3 separate regions of the Homo sapiens genome follow, and regions 1 and 2 are each linked to region 3. Evidence: fine-mapped expression QTL. A gene starts in region 3. Each other region holds a variant in brackets. All regions are shown on one strand. Distances are between the middles of the regions. Region 1 overlaps RIF1 (replication timing regulatory factor 1). Region 2 overlaps RIF1 (replication timing regulatory factor 1). Region 3 holds the start of RIF1 (replication timing regulatory factor 1).

The links.
Region 1: its variant is fine-mapped to the expression of RIF1 in tibial nerve (GTEx, PIP above 0.99). The same link has a PIP of 0.9 or more in atrial appendage and nucleus accumbens.
Region 2: its variant is fine-mapped to the expression of RIF1 in minor salivary gland (GTEx, PIP 0.91).

The regions. Positions count from the first base shown.
Region 1 is chr2:151,474,755-151,483,002 of GRCh38, reverse strand. It overlaps RIF1 (replication timing regulatory factor 1), which reads right to left. Exons shown (of 36, transcript NM_018151.5): 36 at 831-8,146. The coding sequence ends at 7,932. Among named protein-coding and RNA genes, the nearest start is that of RIF1, 69 kb to the right of the region's middle. The variant T/C (reference allele first, on the strand shown) is at 4,937.
Region 2 is chr2:151,430,474-151,438,473 of GRCh38, reverse strand. It overlaps RIF1 (replication timing regulatory factor 1), which reads right to left. Exons shown (of 36, transcript NM_018151.5): 10 at 5,246-5,397; 11 at 2,894-3,011; 12 at 1,471-1,647; 13 at 1,123-1,233. Among named protein-coding and RNA genes, the nearest start is that of RIF1, 25 kb to the right of the region's middle. The variant A/G (reference allele first, on the strand shown) is at 4,565.
Region 3 is chr2:151,404,975-151,413,209 of GRCh38, reverse strand. RIF1 (replication timing regulatory factor 1) reads right to left here and starts at 3,308. Exons shown (of 36, transcript NM_018151.5): 1 at 3,177-3,308; 2 at 2,683-2,796; 3 at 1,872-1,950. The coding sequence starts at 2,786. RefSeq lists enhancers at 3,236-3,395, 3,000-3,698, 3,699-4,397 and a silencer at 4,101-4,395.

The DNA.
Region 1 (8,248 bases), 70 kb before region 3:
GCTATCCTTATAAAAGGGAAATTTAGACAAATACACAGGCACATAGGTAGAAAGTCATATGAAGATGGGAGATTGGGGAAATACCTCTACCTGTCAAAAATGGCCAGCACACCACCAAGCTAGCTGGGGAGAGGTATGGGACAGATAACTTCCACACAGTCCTTAGAAGGAACAAACCCTGCTGATACCATATCTCAGACCTCTACTATTCAAAACTGAGACAATACATTTCAGTTGTTTAACTTATTAGGTTTGTGGTACTGTTACAGCAGCCCTAGGAAACTAATACAGTGTCTTTCAACATCACTGTTTACCCTAATTGTTGTTGTTGTTGTTTTCCTTAAAACTATGGAGCTTTTCTTCGGCTGCCATCAACATGCTTGGTTCTGCAGAGGAAGTTAAGGTCATGTTGGGGTGAGGCATTTACTTCATCTGGTGACTAGCCTGGCAGTGCCACCTCTGCCCTCGCCCACACCATGTGGACTGCCTCTCCAAGCTTGCCTGCATCTACTCAGCCCTTATTTGACGAAACCTCTCTTCTAACAAGTTCAATGAGAAACTGAACTCATTAACAACAACAACAACAGAAAAACCACCACCTCTGGATTTAGAAACCAGTGGAACCCATAAAACTATGCATAAATCAGAAAACCTCTGTGGTTAAAAAGCAGGCCATAAAAGGGGAAAAAGAAAAGGAAGGGTTCATGTTTGTGGAGGAATATAACATACACTTTGTGGTATTTGAATTAAACTATTCATACTCATTTCAGATCTCACGAAAACAACAAAACAAAAAACCAAAATGTAGCCAACAAAAACAAGTACCAGAGTTTAGTTTTTATAGTTTTATTTCAGGTAAAAGTGCATTTCTTAAAAAAATGTTTCAATATCCAGTTTCCATTGGCAAGTGATAACAGTTAACCCTCAATGATTCATGAAAAGTTTTACTGTGAATCAAACATAGAATTCTGCCCCCCCTCAACAGTCATAAAGAACCAGAAATAGTAACTGTAAGTGTGCCTACTTCAAACACTGTATAAAGCAGTGGTCCCCTAACCTTTTTTCAACAGGGACCGGTTTCGTGGAGACAATTTCCACAGACACAGGTGTTGGGGTAGATGGTTTCAGGATGAGACTGTTCCACCTCAGATCATCGGGTATTAGATTCTCATAATGAGCGCACAACCTAGATCTCTTGCATGTGCAGTTCACAATAGGGTTCACGCTCCTGTAAGAATCTAATGCCACCCAGGGGTTTGAGACCCCTAGTATAAAGCATTACACAATCAAATAAAACTGACTGCACCATTATTTCCATTATTTGCAGGTAACTGAGGAATGAACAAGTACTTCTGTTAGGCTTCAACTTAAATCATTTTTAAGACTTATCAAATACAAATACTTTGTGAATGTAAAACTAAGCTCTCTTAGCGTTTACCAAATGATCGGGACAACAATATTAGAGGGTTAATAAATGACTGATTTGGCATCTATCAGTCTTTTTGTAAGTGCTATCAGTCAGGTCTATCTACAGGAGGTAGTGCAGAAAGCAACTGATAATTCACAGACCATCAAGGTCCCTTAACATCATGGCAAATACGTAACTGTAGTTTGAGAGTTTAAGTAGGAAAAAGAAGTGTACTTATAAAGTAGTAGTGTTTCCTAGTATCTGTAATTTGAGCAATAGTAAAACACGTAAGTAAAATCAGGAGAAGCCATTCTGGAAAACACAGGGGTAACAGAAATTAAGTAATCAAGACCACATTCTGCCAGCTAGAAGCAAATAACTAAATTGACTAACATGCCATGCATGAGCAAAACCTTCCTCCATAAAAGGGATTGACAAACTCTTTAAAAGGCCAGGCAGTATTTTGACTGTTGGAAGCCATACAGACTCTGCTATACTACTAAACTCAGCCACTGTACCAGGAAAGCAGCTAAAGACAATAAGCACAGCTGTTCCAATAAAACTTTATTTCTGGATACTGAAATTTTAATTTAATATGTTTTCATGTGTCACAAAATGTCCTTCTTTTGACTTTTTTCACCATTAAAAAATGTAAAAACCAGTCTCAGCTCACAGATAGTACAAAAAACAGGTGGCATGCTAGTTTACCAATCTGTGCTCTGTAAAAAACTTAGGAGTTAAGACTGCCATCCTTCAGTTTCTATACTCAAAACCAATTTTGCTCTTAATTGTTTTCTTTTAGAAACTTCCTATTCTATAAAAATAAAAAATTCTTTAGACACTTGTTAGCTATTCAATAGTGTATCAAAATAATTGTTAGACTATACTCTATTTTCAGTTCCATGACACTTTATTTTGAAGATGATCTTCCTAGTTATATGTTGTTTATCCGTTTAAGAAACAAAGCTGCCTTTTGTTGGAAATACTTATTAACTTACTGCTTTTGTGGGAGTATTAATAATGTATTTTAACATAATCTCTCAGGGTATTTATGAACATCAATTATAATACTGTGCTATGTACAGAATAGCTCTCAGAGACTATAGGCTATCAGCTATTTCTGAAGTATACAGGAGTATATAGGACAGCTTGTCTCTCTACTAAATGTACTATGCATTAAAATTCCAGCTCAATCTGCCTTTTCCATTCTCTTCAACTCATCACTTCTCAGTGCATCAACTTCTATCAGCATATAAGCTTGCTGCCCAGTAAATTCAGCTTTATCTACAATTATAAATTGGCACACTGTGGCCAAAAATATTCCCTCTGCTACAAGTAGAGTACAAAAGTTAGAGTTTTTTTCTTACTTGTGACATCAACAATGGAAAATATTGTCTTCAATTTTTTAGGTAAGATGAACGGTTATCTTTTATTCCAACGGTATTTACAGCTTACCATAACACATTTGGTTTTAACTGTTCTTTGGAGAAAGGAAGGCTTAGTATGTAAAGAAAAAAATGATTAGGACCACATCGGAAAATTTAACATTCTATTTCAGAACTGAGTAAATTCTCACAACTGTTTAGACTACTATATTAAATATTTATAGATCTTCAAACTTCAATGACTTACACTTTAACGGCTACTTGCAAAGAGCAATATGTAAAGCCTGGCACATAATATACTTATTAACTGGACATCAGAAAGCACGAAACCCAATTTGTTTTACAGATCAAACTATCAATAAATTTTGATAAATTTTTAAAACCTATTACTTAACTTTCGGCTACATTTTCCTTAGTGCTTTCAGGGTAGTTCTTACAGATTATTTAAATATGTGAGGAAAATCTAACACCTTAACAGAATTCCAAGAAAAACTCACTTTTCGAGAATCATATTATTCAACTCCATCTTTCAAATTTCACTTTACGATGAAACAGGAATTTTCAACCACATAATATAACAGAAAATTAAGTGACCAGAGGTCCGCAGTATAATGACAGGGCATATCTGCTAGACTGACTTATTCATTATAGCACTACTAAATTTAACTGCCAGATTAATATTAGGGGTAGTGTTGATTTTCCATGTTTATTAATAACGATGATCCATAATAGAAGGCAAGATTTATTTAGAGACTAAATATATTCTAATACTTAGAAATCAACTTTTATATTAACAAAAACATAACCCACAAATACTCATGAGAAAATACTTTGTCTACTTTGCCTTATCAATAAGATTCTTTATAACTTGAAATTCTTAGTCTGCCTACTTAAAAAATAAATCGTCCATATTTTTAAAAGGCTCTTAAGCAAAATTCTTAACTTTCTTATAATTTTTGAACTTTAAGCCTTCAAAACCAGTCTGCATCCCCAATTCACAAAATTGACAGTTATAAAAGGACTTGAATCTGCCTGGCTTACCAAAACCTAAAACACAGCCTGAAGCCTCTTAGGCCCATCTACCAGCGCAGTTCACAGGCATCTGCATGAATCACCTGGGACTGTGTTTAAAAAGACTCACGGGGCCCAATGCAGATCTACTGAATCAGAATCCACTTGTTCATATGCACATCAAAGTTTGAGAGTACTATGTTAAAAATCAAAACCTCACTCTAATGTTTCTATACAAAGTACAAGGTCTTTCTAATGGCTTAGGAATAGGATAGACCATGGGTTGCAGCAATGAGGAAACAGTCTCCTCCCCCCACCCAAGTTTTAGTCTAATAATGCCAACTAACTGCTGTTTTATAGCCTCCTAGGCTGAATGACAAATTAACTTCTTGAAAATCAATTATGAAGAATATGAGATGAAACCTAGGCCTTTCTTACTGAATTAAAGTCAAAGTTGGAAGAAAAAAATTAACCCATTTATACTTTCTTTTTAAAAAGCAATTACTCTATTCTCACTCCTTTACACCTTAAAAAAATAAAACTTCACTTATATATTCACGATCCCCACCATTTCCCCCAATTTTGTTTCTTGCCTCACCACTTACTCTTCACATTTTTATGATGTTTAAATTGTAACAGAGTCTTTAACTATCTTATCTTCAAGCTGTACAGAAAAAAAAAAATCCATGGGCAATGTTAGAATTAAACTTTTTTTTTTTTTTTGCGAGACAGAGACTTGCTCTGTCGCGCAATGGCATGATCTCGGCTCACTGCAACCTCCGCCTAAAAGGTTCAAGCAATTCTCATGTCTCAGCCTCCTGAGTAGCTGAGATTACAAGTATGCGCCAACATGCCTGGCTGGTTTTTGTATTTTTAGTAGAGACAGGATTTCGCCACATTGTTCAGGTCAGTTTTGAACTCCTGGGCCAAAGTGATCCACCTGCCGGGCCTTCAGTCATGCTTTTAATGTGCGGGTTTAAATCCTGTTTTTGCCTGTATTATCCAACAGCATTATTTAACCTGATTCATCCTTTAACTATTTGGAATTAGAGTAAAGCTCCATATGATTCAACAATGGTTTTCAAACTTGTACAAGTGGCAAAGCAGCTTTAACAATGAGGTCACTGAAATA[T/C]TGAAAATTTAAATCCACTCTAAAATCCAAAATAGATTTCATAGATATGGAAATGATGGGCCAGGAGCGGTGGCTCACGCCTGTAATGCCACCATTTTAGGAGGCTGAGGCAGGTGGATATCTGAGGTCAGAAGTTTGAGACCAGCCTGGCTGACATGGTGAAACCCCGTATCTACTAAAAATACAAAAATTAACCAGTGGTGGTGGCAGGCACCTGTAATCCCAGCTATTTGGGAGGCTGAGGCAGGAGAATCGCTTGAACCCAGGAGGTGGAGGTTGCAGTGAGCTGAGATCGTACCACTGCACTCCAGCCTGGGCAGCAAGGGCGAAAACTCCACCTCAAAAAAAAAAGAAAATGGCCAGGTGGGGTGGCTCACGCCTGTAATCCCAGCACTTTGGGAGGCCGAGGCAGGCGGATCACGAGGTCAGATCAAGACCATCCTGGCTAACACAGTGAACCCCTTCTCTACTAAAAATATAAAAAATTAGCCGGGCATGGTGGCGGGCACCTGTAGTCCCAGCTACTTGGGAGGCTGAGGCAGGAGAATGGTGTAAACCTGGGAGGCAGAGCTTGCAGTGAACCGAGATCGCACCATTGCACTCCAGCATAGGCAACAGAGCAAGACTGTGTCTCAAAAAAAAAAAAAGATACTACATGACAATCCTGTATGCCACTAGTTTTTTCTTCTTAAATATGCATAAGACAATTAAGACACATTTGAGTGTTATTATGATCTGACATTTGTTTTATTAACCATTAGAAAAGATCTGAAAAAACGAATTCCATTTTAATAGTGAGACAACACAGTAGAGCTAATCATGGAATATTAATGTTTTGCTATTCGGGAATTACTAAGGGGGAAATTTGCAGGAAACTTTAAGGCAAGAATATTGCAAATAAGTTGCCAAAAATATATGCTTATAGCCATAGCAAAATGAAGATTTAGCATGCTTGTCTTTGCTCCCAAATATTTTTAAATGCAGCTTTATTAAACTATAATGTTTTTAAAATTAATACTTGTGCTTATATAAAATTCAGTGATTTAAGTACATGATACTCATTTGGTCACATTTTCTGCTATTACTGTTCGGCTTCCCAAGAATTTCATTCAATCAGCAAGTTTAGTTCACACAAACGTTAAGGCACAGAGTCATGAAACGAACTGATTTTAATTCTGAAGTGTGTTAAAGTAATCTGCTCCCCTCTGCCCCAAACACATATACATAGCTGCTTATTCATACCTGTTTGCTAAAAACTCATGTGCACCTCCTTACGGTTAAATATAATTTGGGAAATTAATGATGTAAAATGTAAATCATAATTATAATTCCTTTTAAGGAAATTAGTATTTTTCTTTAGTTACTTCAAGCCACAATCCTTAATTCAATGATCCCAGAATTCTTTACAAAACCATCCTTGGTATATGAATATCTTAGACCCAAAAATATCTGTGATTATGATGAATTTATGATGATGAAAAAAGACACCAACTTTTATAGAGATCCCTGAATATACGAGAGCTAAGGAGGCACAAGGATTAAACTTTCTATGACTTGCTGTAGAATGTGTGCCTTGCTAAGTAGGGATTAGCTTCTGAATAAAATGTGAAAACTGAGATCACTCACTCATTCTATTCAAAGAAGAAGTGAGATATACTGTCAGTTAAAAAGATGAAACAAATATGGGAAGTCAGGCACTAATATTAGTTGGCAAATTTTACAAAGGTTTTAATTACATACCTCTTTAAAAAAAGAAAACCTAGGCAACACAGACATATATTAAAAACATCAGTTTCAAATTTCTTCCAAGTTTGCTTTTAAATGAAGGTTTAAAAAGCAGATCAACTCTAGATTTTGTAGTCCAACTTGCTGTGAAATACTGAAACTAACTTTCCTTTAAGAAATCTTAAGGAGGCACACTTTCTAGTGGTGATACCCTCCTCCAAACCAAAAGTAGTAAGAAGGTAAGGGTATGAACAGCAAAGTTGTGTAACATTTTCTTATTTCTATAATTTTACTTATTCTGGATACTTTTAGAAAATAAACTCATGTTTTAACTAAGACTGTTAACCAAGTACAAAACTATTTGTTGTTGCATTTGCAGATACAGTATCCTACAAATATGTGCAGCAAGCCCATGAAGCACTTCCACCGTCGATACTGATATTTCAGTATTTAATATATACAAAATGTTTCTATTGAACAGAACCAAGGTATTCACAATAAGCTGCAGAAAAACCCATGCAATTAACAAAGAATGAAATTTATAAATTAAAAACATTGTCGTCTATACATAATGTACAATCATGCATTTAAAAATGAATACTATACGTCTCATAAGAATAAATTTTCAGTCAACTGCTGCTGCATGAATATTTGCTAATGCAAATGAATAAAATCTTAGTAAATTCTGCATTAATATTTTAACCGCCAGAAGTTGAAACTTTTCTCATTTTTCTTGAAAGCTGTCCAAAGTTGACATATGCAGGAAAAATTCAAATTCTTTCGCATTTCATTTGAGGTTTTTAACCAGTAACAAACTTCCTAAACCTCAGTCCCAACAAACATGAATTAAACAAACCAACAAACAAAAATATAAACACCTTTATCAGTTCAGCAAAAATTCAAATAAAAATGTTCAATTTTACTTAAAGTATTTTACATGTTTCACCAGAATATGCACGGGTTTAAGAAAGCATGAAATAAAATGTAAGTTCTGTTACTAGTTTTGCTTTCACATCTCAGTAAGATAATTAAATTTCCTGAAAAACCACGCATAGCAGCCAAGAATACATATTATGAAAAAAAAAAGGATCTTACATAATGAACTTACAAAATTGAACTTACATAATAAGTCACTGTCCTTCAGGGTTTGAAATGTTATCAACTTTGCAAAGAGTCTCTTCTTTGAAATTGTGCTATTATTTCAGAACTTGTTTCCTCAATCAAGAAATCCAGTGATGTTTAAAAAAACCTTCAATTTTCTCTGAAAATACTAAATAGAATTTTCATGGGATGGTGATCTCCAACGTGACTGTAGATTTTTTATTACAGAGTTTGCCATACAACTTAGTTTCTCGTGCATTTCAAATAGTTGGCTTCCTGAATAATTATGAAGATCTTCTGAATCCAGCTGAAGAGCAAGAGCACTAATCTGTGCCAGAAGGTTTTTGGATAATGGAATTTCTAAAGCAACAGGATCAATTATATCTAAAAGAGAAAAAAAAAACCACAATTAAATCTATACCAGACAAAAATTAAATTTTTTACATGATCTTTTAAGTTAGTCCAAGTGCCTAGGTTTCAAATTGA
Region 2 (8,000 bases), 25 kb before region 3:
AGACAGGGTCTTGCTCTGTCCAGGCTGGAGTACAGTGGCACAATCATAGCTCATTGTCACCTCAACAACCTGGGCTCAAGCAGTCTTCCCACATCAGCCTCCCAAGTAGCTAGGACTATAGGTACACACCACTACACCCATCTAATTATTTTTTTTTGTAAAGATAGCACTCTCACTACATTTCCTAGGCTGGTCACAAACATCTGCCTCAAGTGAACCTCCCACCTTAGCCTCTCCCAAACTGCCAGGATTACAGGCATGCGCTACCATGTCCAGCCATAAATGTGTTCCTTAAAACAACTATAACATGTTAACAATGAATTGTGTAACTAAGGGTAATTGTTTTATCTTTTTTTAAATTATCTTTCTTTTCTGAATTGAATGCCCACTACTTTTGGGGCAGAGATTGTTCACGGAGATTCAGAAGGATATCTAACAACCAATAGAAAAAATTTATGTGATTCATTGTGATTCTTTTTCCAACCAGTTAAAGAGCAAACAATTTTTGAAATTTCCTTTCCTCATTATTTGATAGGCCATGTAACACAGGAGTTTAGGCACAGATGCTAGAGCCATAGAGCTTGACACGGTACTACCACTCGTAAGTGACTCTGCATAACTTATGTACTTCCTGTATAACCCATTTTCTCATTTGTAAAATGAACTAACATGGTATGTTACTGCGAAAATTAAATGAATAAATGTAAAGTTCTCAATGCACAATCTGGCCAGTAGGTGGCACTATATAAATATTTGTTATTTTATCTTCATATTTTTTATTTTTTAATAGAGTCTTGCTCTATCACCCAGGCTGCAGTGCAGTGGCACAATCTTGGCTCACTGCAACTTCCACCTCCTGGGCTCAAGCAATTCTCATGCCTCCGCCTCCCGAGTAGCTGGGACTACAGGTATCTGCCAACATGCCCACCTAGTTTTTGTATGCTTTGTAGAGACAGGGTTTTGTCATGTTGCCCAGGCTGGTCTCGAACTCCTGAGCTCAAGTGATCCACTCACCTCGGCCTCCCAAAGTGCTGGGATTACAGGTGTGAGGTACTGTGACTGGCCTATTTTTTCTTCTTTTTAAACACACATTTGAGCAAATAATAAATCAAATTCTCTTACCGGGGGCATCTTTTCCAACTGCAACAAAGCTATCATGAACAGCAGTGATAAGTGTATTTGCATGTTTGGAAAAAAAGGAAGGGCTGCTGATTAACGGATGTTCCAATGGCTCTGAAAGGGAAGAATAAAAGATAATTATGTAAAACAACAGATTTATGAAATACATTTCTCACTATAAAACTTTAAAATGTCTATTAAGTAGGTGTGTTTTCTATAAAAAAAAGATTCATATTTCATACACAACTGTAAAATATTTTGGCTGCGACAAAATAACACCTCTCCTCACCCCAATGCATTAAGTCCTAGACTGTTTTAGTAATTAAAATTATTCTTAAAACCTTTAAATACCTAAGCTCAGCACAAGTTTATTTTGCTTAGCAAAACTCAAGGCTTCTGGACCCAACAAGAAATGAAGCAACATTTCAAGTCCCAAAAGTTGAATGGATGGGATTGTGGCCATTCCACCTAAATTCGAACTCAGGTTCATTCGGGGAGTTCCCGGGGCTCCGTACGGGGAGGAAGCACCTTTAAGAAAAAAAAAAAAAGAGTTAAGTCATACAAGCTCATTTTATATTAGCTACCCAAATGCATACATTTCATTTCAATGAAACTTTTAAAAACAGAGTTTAAATGTCTCAGGCATTAATCCATACCTTGAAATATTAATATGCAGGTATTCTGTAACAAATTTTGAAGACTCAGATGGCAAACAAAATAATACATATGACACACATGTATATCATATGTCTTTCAATGACATACATAAAGAAGACACTTTATAACTGCTGAGATTTTTTTTTTTTTTTTTTTTGAGACAGAGTCTCATTGTACTGCCCAGGCTGCAGTGCAGTGGTACAATCATAGTTCACTACAACCTCAAACTCCTGGGCTCAAGCACTTCTCCCATCAGCATTCCAAGTAGCTGTAACTATAGATGGATGGATACCACTGTGCTCAGTTAATTTTTAAATTTTTTGTAGAGACAGGGTCTCACTATGTAGCACAGGTGGTATCCAACTCCTGGCTTCAAGTGATCCTCCCACCTCAGCCCCCTAAATGCTGAGATTATAGGTGCCTGCCACTGCACCTGGCTGAAGTGTTGTTTTTGTTTTATTTTGTTTTTTTTGAGACTGAGTCTCACTCTGTCGCCCAGGCTGGAGTGCAGTGGCGAGATCTCGGCTCACTGCAACCTCCGCCTCCCAGGATTCAAGCAATTCTCCTGCCACAGCCTCCCAGGTAGCTGGTTATTACAGGGGCCCACGACCACGCCCGGCTAATTTTTTTATTTTCAGTAGAGACTGGGTTTCACCGTGTTGGCCAGGCTGGTCTCAAATGCCTGACCTCAAGTGATCTGCTGGGCTCGGCCTCCCAAAGTGCTAGGATTACAGGCGTGAGCCACCTCACCTGGCCGATGTGTTGTTTTTAATAGCGCTAAGATTCTGGTTCTAAAATCAACAGCTTCATGTTAGCTGCTCTGAGGCTTTTTTTGCAAGGCACCTCACATAATGTACTGAAAAAACATCCGTCTCTTCTAACCACAACAATGCGCTTACAACAGTAATCAGTAATATTAAAAAAAAAAAACAAAAAACAGAAAAACATGATAATGGATTTTTTGGTAATGAACCTAAAAATTATGAAGTGCTTCATTTCAAACGAAAAACACTGAGCAAAACCTCTCAAAGCCTTTTTTTTTCCTACTTCAAAACTATGCTTCTAGGTCAACAAAGCCTGATTAAAAAAGCAAAAAACAAGAATATCTACCTCTTACCTTTGTGTACAGGAGTCATAGGATTTAAACCTGGAGATGTAGCTACATGACACGAATTGCCCTGAGGTGAGGCATTAGAATCAATGCTTATTGTACTTTGAATCAGAGGCACACAAACCTATGGGGTAAAAGAAAACATCGATCTATAAACTATACAACTGTCACAGTTTTTAAAAGCCTCACATAATATAAATTTCATTAAATGGAGCCTTAATATATTCCATTTTACAGATCGTTTCCATGCACAAACAGGCTAAAAAGTGGAATTTGGAAAAAATATGAACATTACAACTGTATTTGCCCTAAATATGTATTACCTAAATTTGTTTATATACATCAACATCTGAACTGTACACATTACTGGTAGACTAATTTTAACTTTTTAAAACTCTGGAAAACATGAACTCAGACAAAGCTCATTTCTAACATCATCCTAGTACCAGTCACATGTAGTTACCAAATAAATTATTCCAATTAATGTATTGGACAAATGCAAAGAATTAGCCTATTGGACCCTTATAATGGTAGAATTTGGAAAATTCATTATGATGCAAATTACATTGTTGACAATGCCCATCTTCAATTATTTCATGTTATATAAATTTAAAACTCAATAATTAAAAAATTAAAAACTGAATAAAAATGGCTTAAGTATATTTATAAGTCCTCCTGTCCAAGAATGCATTCCCTGCTATGCAGCTATTTATATAAAATATAAAATATACCCCTAAAATATACCCCCAGAAGTAAAATGTACCCCCAAAATCCAAAATAAGTGATAAAGAAATGAAAAAGATGTTAGCAGAGCTGCTCCTTTTAACTGTAAAAAAATTCAAAAACCAGGCTGGCGCAGTGGCTCATGCCTGTAATCCCAGCACTTTGGGAGGCCGAGGCAGGCAGATCACAAAGTCAGGAGATCGAGACCATCCTGGCTAACACAGTGAAACCCCGTCTCTACTAAAAATACAAAAAATTAGCTGGGCGTGGTGGCGGGCGCCTGTAGTCCCAGCTACTCAGGAGGCTGAGGCAGGAGAATGGTGTGAACCCAGGAGGTGGAGTTTGCAGTGAGCCGAGATCGTGCCACTGCACCCTAGCCTGGGCAACAGAGCGAGACTCCATCTCAAAAAAAAAAAAAAAAAAAAATTCAAAAACCAAGGATGGAAATAACTGCAAATAACTCAAAAGGTTTAGGTTAAGATTAAACTTTATATCTAAATGCCAGTAAGGATATGCAAATCCTGAAGAATTCGTAAAATCATTGTGTAACAATTAAAAAGAACCTATAAATAGGATTCAGTCATTGGTTATCACTATGCAGCCTAGAAAACGGAGCAAGAAATAAAAAAACAAGAACTGGTCCAACCTTGTATCTACCCAGTGTAGCACTTGATTTCTCTCTTTTTTTTTTTTTTTGAGATGGAGTCTCACTCTGTTGCCTGGGCTGGAGTGCAGTGGTGTGATCTCAGCTCACTGCAACCTCCATCTCCTGGGTTCAAGCAATTCTCCTCAGCCTCCCGAGTAGCTGAGACTACAGGCACATGCCACCACACCCAGCTACTTTTTTGTATTTTAGTAGACACGGGGTTTCACCATGTTGCCCAGGCTGGTCTCAAACTCCTGAGCTCAGGCAACCCACCTGCCTCTGCCTCCCAAAGTGCTAGGACTACAGGC[A/G]TGAGTCACCGCGCCCGGCTGATTTCTATTTCACTGATGCTGGTTTTCTTCTCAATTATATTCCAAATGCTCTAGGGGAAAAAACCCTTTGTTTAAAATCATAATGCTTGTAGAGTAAGAATGTTTGAGTACTTGCTAATTTAAAAACATTTCAGGGCCAGGCGCGGTGGCTCATGCCTGTAATCCCAGCATTTTGGGAGGCTGGCATGGGCGAATCATTTGAGGCCAGGAGTGCGAGACCAGCCTGGCCACCATGGTAAAACCCTATCTACACTAAAAAATACAAAAAATTAGCCAGGTGTGGTCGTGCGCCTGCAGTCCCAGCTACTCGGGAGACTGACACAGGAGAATCACTTGAACCCAGGAGGTGGAGGTTGCAGTGAGCCGAGATCGTGCCACTGCACTCCATCCTGGGAAACAGAACAAGACTCCATCTCAAAATAAATAAATTAATAATAAATAAATAAAAACATTTCAGGTAAAGGGGCTCCATTTCAAGCAACTGAACAATATCCCTTGTGGGAAATGAATTTAAGTTCTCTGCCAGTAAAGTGAAAGACCTTTTATATGTTCTAGTCTGCTAATAAATAGCAAAAATAACACCACAGGATTACATTGGTAAGAATTTAAGAACACATTAACAAAAACATAAAGTGCTATAGTCAACACTTGTAATGTTACCTGTTCAAAATTAGCAGGAAGATGAGGTCCAAGTCTCATCAGTAAATACCACCAGACTTCTAGTTTTGTTAATGCTAGAGTTTCTGTTCTCACATGGATGGAACTCAAAGGCTGCATTAACAACTTGAGTCTTTTTGCACTACATAGTATATCTTAAAAGAAAATAAGCACACAGTTAAAGAGACGTCCAAGCTAAAGATTAACTCTAACACTAGCTATGCAACAGTCTTTTATCACAGCAAGAGAACGTATTTTAAAATTTTTTTAAAAAAATAAATCCCCAGGCTGTCCTTGCTCTACCCAAAACTTGCATTTTGATAAACTACAGTACAGCTGAACCAAAAACACTCAATAAATCAAAAATATATTTTAAAACAAATAAGTAATATTTATTAGATATTGTGTGCCGGGGCAATTTCCCACCAGGGAATACTTCAGGTTGGTTACAAATGAGGGGATGCTATTGACATCTTAGTGAGTAGAGACTACGGACGCTACTAAACTTCAACACCACACCAGGACAGTCCTGAAAAACAAATTATCCAGCACAAAATGCCAAAACTTTGACAAATACTGTCCTAGCTGCTTTAGCATTCTCATTATCCCCATTTGACAAAGAAACGGAAGCATATGTTTACATTATGTCAAAAAAGGCTATCATTTTAAAAATCAATTATTAATATATTCCATCAAAAATCATTACTACTGGGGCCACTGACTGAATACATTTTTGAAATCTAAATAGATTCATTTAGATTCAGGACTGCCCTATCTTAACAATAATCATATTGTTAAAATTCAGCATAGAAATTAAATCCAATCTTCAGAAAAAACATTTATGCCAAATGAGTAAGACTGGGGATATGTAAAATTAAGACACAGTCTGTGCTAAAATAACTTGTCAAAAAGACCTTAAAAGGGCTGGGCGTGGTGGTTCACGCCTATAATCCTGGCACTTTGGGAGGATGAGGCAGGTTGGTCACTTGAGGTCAGGAGTTTGAAACCAGCCTGACCAACATGGTGAAATCCTACCTCTACTAAAACTACAAAAAGGTTAGCTAGGCATGGCGGTGGCTCCTGTAATACCAGCTACTCAGGAGCCTAAGGCAGGAGACTCGCTTGGACCCAGGAGGCAGAGGTTGCAGTGAGCTGAGATCACACCACTGCACTCCAGGCTGGGTGACAGAGTGAGACTCCGTCCTGAATAAATAAATAAATAAATAACTTGAAAAGGATTCTGAAACATCAATCAGGCCATGTATTTGGTGGAATGGCACTCAACAATGTCTGTTACAACTACTCTGCCATTTAGCTATTTCAATTAACAGTTCTATAAGAAAATAAAGGCTATCACTGTATGAACAAGTTCTCCAGTCCAAGACACTTCCTTTTTGGGGTCTCCTATTCTTTTTGTTCATTCATTCATTCATTCATTCATTCATTCATTCAGAGACGGAAGTTTCACTCTTGTTGCCCAGGCTGGAGTGCAATGGCATGATCTCGGCTCACTGCAGCCTCCTCCTCCCGGATTCTCCTGCCTCTGCCTCCCAAGTAGCTGGGATTACAGGCATGTGCCACCATGCCCGTCCAACTTTGTATTTTTAGTAAAGATGGGGTTTCTCCATGTTGGTCAGGCTGGTCTCTAACTCGAGAACTCAGGTGATCTGCCCGCCTCTCAAAGTGCTGGGATTACAGGCGTGAGCCACCACGTCTGGACTCTATTCTATTTATGAGAAGAGCTCCATAATAATATCTCTACAGTAGCAGAGATTAATTGCCATGCAATAAACCAATCTCCTTTAATTAAAAAATCTGATTTTACACAGGACAGTGATGGGTGCCCAATTTTTGACTACTTTTTCTAGTCGGCCACTGAGCCATTCTACCCAGTAAAATTTAAGTGGATGTGTATATAAGATTCTTAGAAGGCTATTTCTAGGTATAGGTGAGTAAGCTGTGAAGAAGTCTTTTCTGCTCTTCTGCCTTCCCTCCTTCCTGTCTGCAATTAAGACAAATCAAAGATGGCAGAGTAAAAATACAGTCATCTGATTCCTTGATGACTTCCCGGATCCACAGCATCAGTCATGGATTCCCTAGCTCTGAACTTATTTTTAACTTACTATCTTTAAACTACTCTTATTTTATGCTTTAACTTAATTCCTAAAGATTGTAGTCCCAAACATTACCTCACACTTCTGGGTTTACAGTTAGACCCAAATACATGCCAGCTCATAAACATAAAAATAAGCTACAATTTCAATTAAAAATTGTAGTAGAATGAGCACAGTGGCTCACACCTGTAATCCTAACACTTTGGAAGGCTGAGGCAGGTGGATCACTTGAGTCCAGGAGCTCGAGACTAGCCCGGGCAACGTGGTCAAATCCCGCCTCTACAAAAAATACAAAAATTAGCCAGAAATGGTGGCACACGCCTGTAGTCCCAGCTACTTGGGGGGGCTGAGGTGGGAGGATCACTGGAGCCCAGGAGGTCAAGGCTGCAGTCAGCCACTGCACTCCAGTCTAGGTGACAGGGCAAGACCCTAAGTGGGGGGAGGGGGGGAAACTATGCCCCCAAAATGTACCAGTATTTTAAATAAAAGTAATTATAGGGCTGGGAGCAGTGGCTCTTGCCTGTAATCCCAGCACTTTGGGAGACCGAGGCAGGCAGATCACAAGGTCAGAAGTTCGAGACCAGCCTGGCCAGTATGGTGAAACCTTGTCTCTACTGAAAATACAAAAATTAGCCAGACGTGGC
Region 3 (8,235 bases):
AAATACAAAAAAAAAAGTAGCTGGGCGTAGTGGCACATGCCTGTAACCCCAGCTACTTGAGAGGCTGAGGCAGGAGAACGGCTTGAACCCAGGAGGTGTTCAAGCCATTGCACTCCAGCCTGGGCAACAAGAGCAAAACTCCGTCTCAAAAAAAAAAAAAGTATGCAATAGAATTCCTGATCCTATAAATACTCAATACACGAAAGTGCATGTCTTCACATCTAATTATTATAATATGGAATATGATAATGAAGAAAATGGAATAAACACTGATATTAAGTAACTAGCACACAATAAAGTTTCTGCTTACACAAAAAATGTTGATGACTGTGACACCACCAAGAGTAGGCAGTATCTCTGTTAATACTTCGCCAAAAATCACGTTAAAATGTACATGTCTGGATGAAACACTTGTTTAAAGGCACACGGCTGGGCACGGTGGCTCACACCTATAATCCTAGCCCTCTGAGAGGCCAAGGCGGGTGGATCACCTGAGGTCAAGAGTTCAAGATCAGCCTGGTCAACATGGTGAAAGCCCGTCTCTACTAAAAATATTAGCTGGGTGTGGTGGGGGCATGCCTGTAATCCCAGCTACTCAGGAGGCTGAGGCGGGAGAATCACTTGAACCTGGGAGGCAGAGGTTGCAGTGAGCTGAGATTGTGCCACTGCACTCCAGCACGGGCGACACAGCAAGACTCTGTCTCAAACAAACAAAAAGCACAAAAGCTGGGCATGGTGGCACCTACTTGTAATCTCAGCTACTAAGGAGGCTGAGGTGGGAGGATCGCTTGGACCCAGGAGTTCAAGACTGGCTTAGGCAACCTATCAAGACCCCCACCTCAATTTTAAAAATTAAAAACAAAAATAAAAGCACAAGAACAAGGTCATAATAAAAACAAACAAAAAAAATTAAAAAAAGAGAACAAGGTCATAAAAATGAGAACTCAAACTTTGGAGATAAAAGTTCAACTTTTTCATTCTAAAAACAAGGAAATTTAAAAGATGTTAAGGATAGTCAGGAAGCCATTAAGTAGGCAAGTGAAGACAGGAACACAGGTCCACAGTATGATGTCAAACATCATTTCCCTAAAGCAAAAATGATAACGGTTGTAGCAAAAACTGAGGGTGAATGAGGAAAAAGAAATTAATGCTACCTAGATTAGACCAAAGACAATTGTAATTTTAGAAGCACTTACTTAGATGTAGATTCCCAAAAGGAAAGAAAACAGATTAATCTCTGATCTCTGCTTTCAAGAGCACAAACTCAGATTCAAGTGCCCCTAGGCAACTTTAGGCAAATTAAATTAATTTCTTCACCTGCAAAGTGATCATTAAGAAATAATCTCATGGAACCATGGAGAGTTAAGTGATAAAGCGTGTAAGGTAATTAAGAAAGTACCTGAGAAGCTTTAAGTAACAATAAAGAGTATTATAATCAGTATTATTGCTGTTATTTTAGATTCAAAGCTTTTGAGTCAACTGGCAAAACTTTTAAAAACCACCAAAAGTGGCTGGACACAGTGGCTCACTCCTGTAATCCCAACACTTTGGGAGGCTGAGGCAGGCGGATCACCTGAGGTCGGGAGTTCGAGACCAGCCTGACCAACATGGAGAAACCCCTTCTCTACTAAAAATACAAAATTAGCCGGGGCGGTGGCGGATGCCTATAATCCCAGCTATTCAGGAGGCTGAGGCAAGAGAATCGCTTGAACCCGAGAGGCGGAGGTTTCAGTGAGCCGAGCCCGAGCCTGAGCCATTGCACTCTCGCCTGGGCAACAAGAGCAAAACTACACCTCAAAACAAAAAAACAAAACCAAAAAAAAAAACCAAACTACCAAAAGTGAAAAACTGTTTAACAAACAGATACATACCTTTAAAACTTTGTACAGCCGAGGAAGTTTTTTCTCAATTTCTGTAATTACTTCTTTTCCTTCTTCTCCAGTCATACGACTTAAAAAGCAGGAAGAACACAAGTTTAAGTAGTTGACAGGAAAAAAAAAAATACTCTCAAAAATACATGTACAATCTTTTTAAAAATTACTTTCTAACTCCTGCAAATGAATTGACCCAGTAGGTAAGGTCCTTAAGGGTATACAGAATATATAATGCAATATATATCAGAAATGAAAGTAGAAAAACCCTCAGAATAAGTTTTTACATCGAGTACATGCAAGTTGTGACAACCTGACTCCAAAAAGACAGAACAGGGATCCCTATTCCTAGTTACTAACGATTTGCTAAGCCTTTCCAAAGGGTTTTACAAAACTTTAGTACATTTCTATGAAAATTACTTTGAAGCATTTTGCAATTAATAAAAATCAGTGTATTGCTCTGTTAAAAAAACTCTGGGTAGCCACATTTTCCCAACACATCGGAGGTTTACACTGAAGACCCCTCCTCCAACAACTACTTCCAACCGAAACTTTTAAAAATCCCTCGCTTGCAAAACACACGTGCATGCTCCCTCGTTCCAAACACACACCTCAAGCGCAGCAGCAGCAGTACCCGGGAACGTCACCTAGAATACATCTCCCCCGCCCCCCAAGGCGTCCGCGACTCGGGCGTCCTCACATTTGCTAGACTTCTAGAACTCACATTCATTCTACGCGCCCCTCCCAACCACCTTCTTTCTCCCCACTATAGAGCGCCCCACTCTCCGCTACGCCCCGTGGCGGACCTCACCTGGTCAGAGTCAGGTAAGCGTCAGTCTGCCCTCCATGGGAGGCAGAAGGGTCTTCCAAAGTCTCCAACAGCGGCGCGAGGGGGCTCTGACCCCTGGCCGTCATGTCGGCCACCCTGAGGCCCGAACCGGAAGAGGAGAAAATCCAGTGACCGATGGAAACAGCCCCGCGGCGGCCCAGTGTGAGTCCGGCCCTCACACCCGCACGCCCGCCCGGGCCTCACAGCCACGCCGCGTCTGCACCCCAGGCCTCCGAATCACCAAACCCCAGCGCGAACCTCCTCCGGCGCCCGACACCAGACACCTGAGCCCACGCCACATTCGGGCCTGGGCCCGCTCCCGCCACCACTTTCCCGGGCAGCTTTCAACAGAGGGAGGAGATCGGCGGAGGGCGGGAGAAGCCCGGGGAACGAGGCATCTCGCCGCGAGGGGGCGGAGGGTGGGCAGACTGAGGGTTCCCCGCGGCCTACCACTGTCACCCCGATATTTATCCCACCTAGGAAGATCAGGACAGGGTTCTCTCCGCCTCTGCCCCTCAGCACCCAGACGCTGCCAGAGCTCGACTTTCCCAGCTCCGGCTGTTTACTCACGCGTGCGGCGCGCTCCCTCCTAGACCAAGATGGCGGCTGGGCGGGCCCAGGAGTGCGCGGGAGTAGGTTAGGCCTGGCGGGAGAAGTTCGAGCCAATCCAACAGTCAGCGGCACACCGGAGTTATCGATCGCCTCCCTTCCCATCCCTTCCCATCCCTTCCCTGCCCAGCTGCCGCGTCACGCCCCTCTGGTGAGCATCAGGTGGTGGTGTTTTGCCTAAGGCGAGAGACTTGAAATTCAAAATGTGAGTTAATTGCTCAGACTCACTAGACTGAACATAGTGGGCCCTCAGACTAAGTGTTCAAACTCCAAGTCCAGTGCTTGTTGAAGTTTTAGCAACAAATCAGTTAGCAAAAGGAGATAACGTACTGTTGGGTTTAAGACTAAGAGCTGGCCGGGCGCGGTGACTCACACCTTGTAATCCAAGCACTTTGGGAGGCCGAGTCTGAGGTCAGGAGTTCGAGACCAGCCTGGCCAACACATGGTGAAACCCCGTCTCTACTTAAAAAAAACAAAAATACAAAAATTAGTTGGGTGTGGTGGCGCACGCCTGTAGTCCCAGCCACTTGGGAAGCTGAGGCAGGAGAATCGCTTAAACCCGGGAAGCGGAGGTTGCAGTGGGCCGAGATCACGCCACTGCACTCCAGCCTGAGCGACAGAGTAAGAGTAAGACTCCGTCTCTCAAAAAAAAAAAAAAAGAAAGAAAGAAAAAGAAAAGAACTGTATCTCAAGCTGGTCTAGATTCCAGCTGGTCTAGGTTCCATGTGACTTTAGCAAGTTAATTAACCTATGCCTCAATTTCCTCCTCTATAAAATAGGGCTTTTAATAGGTGAAGTGAGAAAAGGTTGGAGAGGCCAATGGTTCTCAGGTCTTAAGCGTACATAACAATGGCCTGGGGATATTCGTTATTAAACTGCAGATTCCTGGGCCCCGCCCATATGCATTGTAATTCAGTAGATTTAGGTAGCTCCCGAGGATGTGCATTCTTCTGTTAGGCCCCTGGGGGGTTGAAGGGTGGGATTTGGCCAGGGCTTCTTCCCTAGAGAAACGTCAGTAAACACAATGACAGTCATTTCTCCTTACTGTGAATATGCTGCTCCTCCCCCGCCTTTTTTTTTTTTTAAGACGGAGCCTCGTTCTTTCGCCCAGGCTGGAGTGCAGTGGTGCGATCTCGGCTCACTGCAACCTCTGCCTCCCGGGTTCAAGCGAGTCTCTGACTCAGCCTCCCGAGCAGCTGGGATTACAGGCGCCCGCCACCACACCTGGCTAATTTTTGTACTTTTAGTAGAGACGGGGTTTCACCATCTTGGCCGTGCTGGTCTCGAACCCCTGACCTCGTGATCCACCCGCCTCGGACACCCAAAGTGCTGGGATTACAGGCGTGAGCCACCGCGCCCGGTCTGCTTCTCCCCTTTTCATATGCCTTCGTGCACTCTCCACAACAGACAGGATTGCATTAACTCTAAATCAGACACATGAAGCCCAGCAGCAATGGAACTCTCCATCATGGGTTCCTGGCCCAGGATTTGAGCCCTCACTCACATGTGCTGCAACTCTCAGCTCTAGAAGTGGGATGTTGCTTTTTGCTCTTCTTTGTGTCATCTGCACTTAGCAAAATGACTGCCAAACGACGCAGTACATACATAGTATGCTTATATATATATTTATTTATTTATATGTATTTATATATATTTATATTTATTTACATATATTTATATATATACACACACACACATACATATATACATATACATATATATATATATATATATATTTTTTTTTTTTTTTTTTTTTTTTTTTTTTTTGAGACGGAGTCTCGCTCTATCACCCAGGCTGGAGTGCACTGACCTGATCTCAGCTCACTGCATCCTCCGCCTCCTGGGTTCAAGCGATTCCCCTGCCTCAGCCTCCCGAGTAGCTGGGATTACAGGCATGCGCCACCACGCCCAGCTAATTTTTTGTATTTTAGTATAGACAGGTTTCACCATGTTGGCCAAGATGGTCTTGATCTCCTGACCTCGTGATCAGCCCGCCTCGGCCTCCCAAAGTGCTGGGATTACAGACTTGAGCCACCACGCCTGCCTCTACCCATTCATTAGAACATAAATTCTGTGAGAACAGGGATTTTGCTTTATTTTTTTCATAATTTCCCATTTGTAATGAAAGGACTACGGTGGTCATGTTGCTTGTATTTCTTTCATATGTATGGTTCTTTGATCTTCCAAAAATGTTATGTTTTAAATTTTATTATTTTTAAAGACAAGGCCTTGCTCTGTCACCTGGGTTGGAGTGCAGTGGTGTGATTGTGACTTACTGCAGCCCTGAACTTCTTGGGCTCAAATGATCCTCCTGCCTCAGCCTTATAAGTAGCTCAAAAATGTTATGTAAGATTTTATCATTGTCATTCCTGTGCCTAAAGTTCTCCAGCCATTCCCATCAGTAACAGGATGGATTTCAAAACTTTTGACATAACATGCAAGCCTATCATGATTGGGCCACTGCTTGTCCTTCATCTCCAGATTACTCCCACTTCATCAGATTCTGAACAGTCTGCTAAGATCTCCAGCTTCTCTGTGTCTTTGAAGACTTTTATTCAGAGCATGTATTTAGAATATTAATTACCTTCTTCAAGAGTAATAAATAAGAGTCAGGTGGCTCACACCTATAATCCCAACACTTTGCAAGGCTGAGGCAAGTGGATCACCTGAGGTCAGTTCAAGACCAGCCTGGCTAATATGGTGAAACCCCTTCTCTACTAAAAATACAAAAATTAGCCAGGCGTGGTGGTGCATGCCTGTAATCCCAGCTACTCAGGAGGCTGAGGCAGGAGAATCGCTTGAACCCAGGAGGCGGATTCAAGCCAAGATTGTGCCACTGCATCGCAGCCTGGGCAACAGAGCAAGACTCCATCTTAAAAAAAAAAAATCAACTAAAATCACACCTTTTTGTGAAATCTTTCCCTCATCTACTCTCCAACCACACACATTCTCTTCATGGAGAATTAAATGCTCCTGCCTCCCTCCTATCATGCTATAGATCTGATAAAATGAGTATCTCATTAATTTATTATTGTTTGGTTATAGGTGTTTGAGTGCAGTGGCAGAGTTGAGAGTTATCCTGATGGGGATTAATTCCATCTGTAATCTCATCTCATCAGTGCCCCTCCCTCCTATTTGACATTTTCTCAATCTGATCTAGAGTGCTAAGGGATTACAGAATGAAAACAAATACCCTTCCCCACCCAGACCCCTCTTCACACACCTTTACAACTTGGTTGCTACCCCAAAACTTCTCTTTTATAGAAATTCCATATAAATTTATATAGAAATATTTATAGCCACCCTCATGGATCTGCTACCTTTGGGCAATAAATTCATAGTACCTAGCACTCAATAAATATAATTTGAAATAATTTGTTCATATATTAATTCATCCATCTATCATCTAACTAATACACGATTTCTATCTTTCCCTCTCTAAATCCTATATCTCTTCTCCCCAGATCATCTTCCCTTTCTAGATGCCTTATATCTGCAATCCAATATTCCTTTCTAACTTCCTCATTTATGTTTTTTTGTTTTGTTTTGTTTTGTTTTGTTTTGAGACAGGGACTTGCTCTGTCACCCAGGCTGGAGTGCAGTGGTGCAAACATGGCTCAATGCAGCCTCTACCTCCTGGGCTCAGGTGATCCTCTCACCTCAGCCTCCTGAGTAGTTGGGACTACAAGAATGCACCACCATGCCTGGCTAATTTTTATTTTTTGTAGAGATGGAGTCTTGCTATGTTGCTCAGACTGGTCTCAAACTCCTGGGCTCAAGCAATTCTCCCACCTTAACCTCCCAAAGTGCTGAGATTATAGTCTTGAACCACCATGCCCAGCCACATTAAGCACACATTACTCAGCAAACGTCAAGCCTATAATCTATATCTATCAATGACTCCTTTCTCTTACTTGTCCCCAGTGGTCCTAATGATTCTCCCTTCTCAATAATTCTTAGATCTACCCACCAATGTGTATCTAAAATCTCAATTTATAGCCTAAATACACCTAAACATATTATTTCTTAAAAAAAAAAAACAAAAAAAGTTTTTATTGAGTGCCTGGTGCCATACATGCCTTATCTTTTTTTTTTTTCTTTTCGAGACAGAGTCTTGTTCTGTTGCCCAGACTGGAGTGCAGTGGCACAATCTCAGCTCACTGCAACCTCAAATGTTGCAGTGTTCAAGTGATTCTCATGCCTCAGCCACCCAAATAGCTGGGATTTCAGGTGTGTACCACCATGCCCAGCTAATGTTTGTATTTTTGTCAGAGACGGGATTTCACCATGTTGACCAGGCTCGTCTGGAATGCTTGACTTCAAGTGATCCACCTTCGTTGGCCTCCCAAACTGCTGGGATTACAGGAGAGAGCCAACACGCCCAGCCCATGCAAGCATTATCTCATTTATTTCTCACAATAATTCTAAGATGAATTACTTTCCTGGATTTACACATAGGCCATGTAAAGCTTAAAGAGTAAATTAAAACAGAGAACTTTAATCTAGCCATGTGTAACAACAAGTCTACTTGAACTACTTTCATTCATCAACATGTAATGAGCTCTACCCTGCACAAGGCACGGTGGTAAAATGGCTTTCATGATAGATTTATTACTGAATCTTGTAAGAAAAATAAAGTGTAAAGTCCTATGGGAGCCCATTATGTAAAGGGCTCATATAGTAATTCGTTTAGTAAAATCAAGTATTCATCTGTAATCCAAATTATTATAGTAAATGCAATGAGCTCAGCTTTGGATCAAAGAAATGAGTGTTTAAATACTTGCTGTGCCACTGTGTGACTTGAGATCCTCCAGAGAAATGCTTAAAGTTACCACATCTTCATCAATAAAATTAGAAGAATATACTTACATCAAAGTTCAGTGCCTAGCACAAATCTTGGCACATAATAGGTATTTAATAAGCATT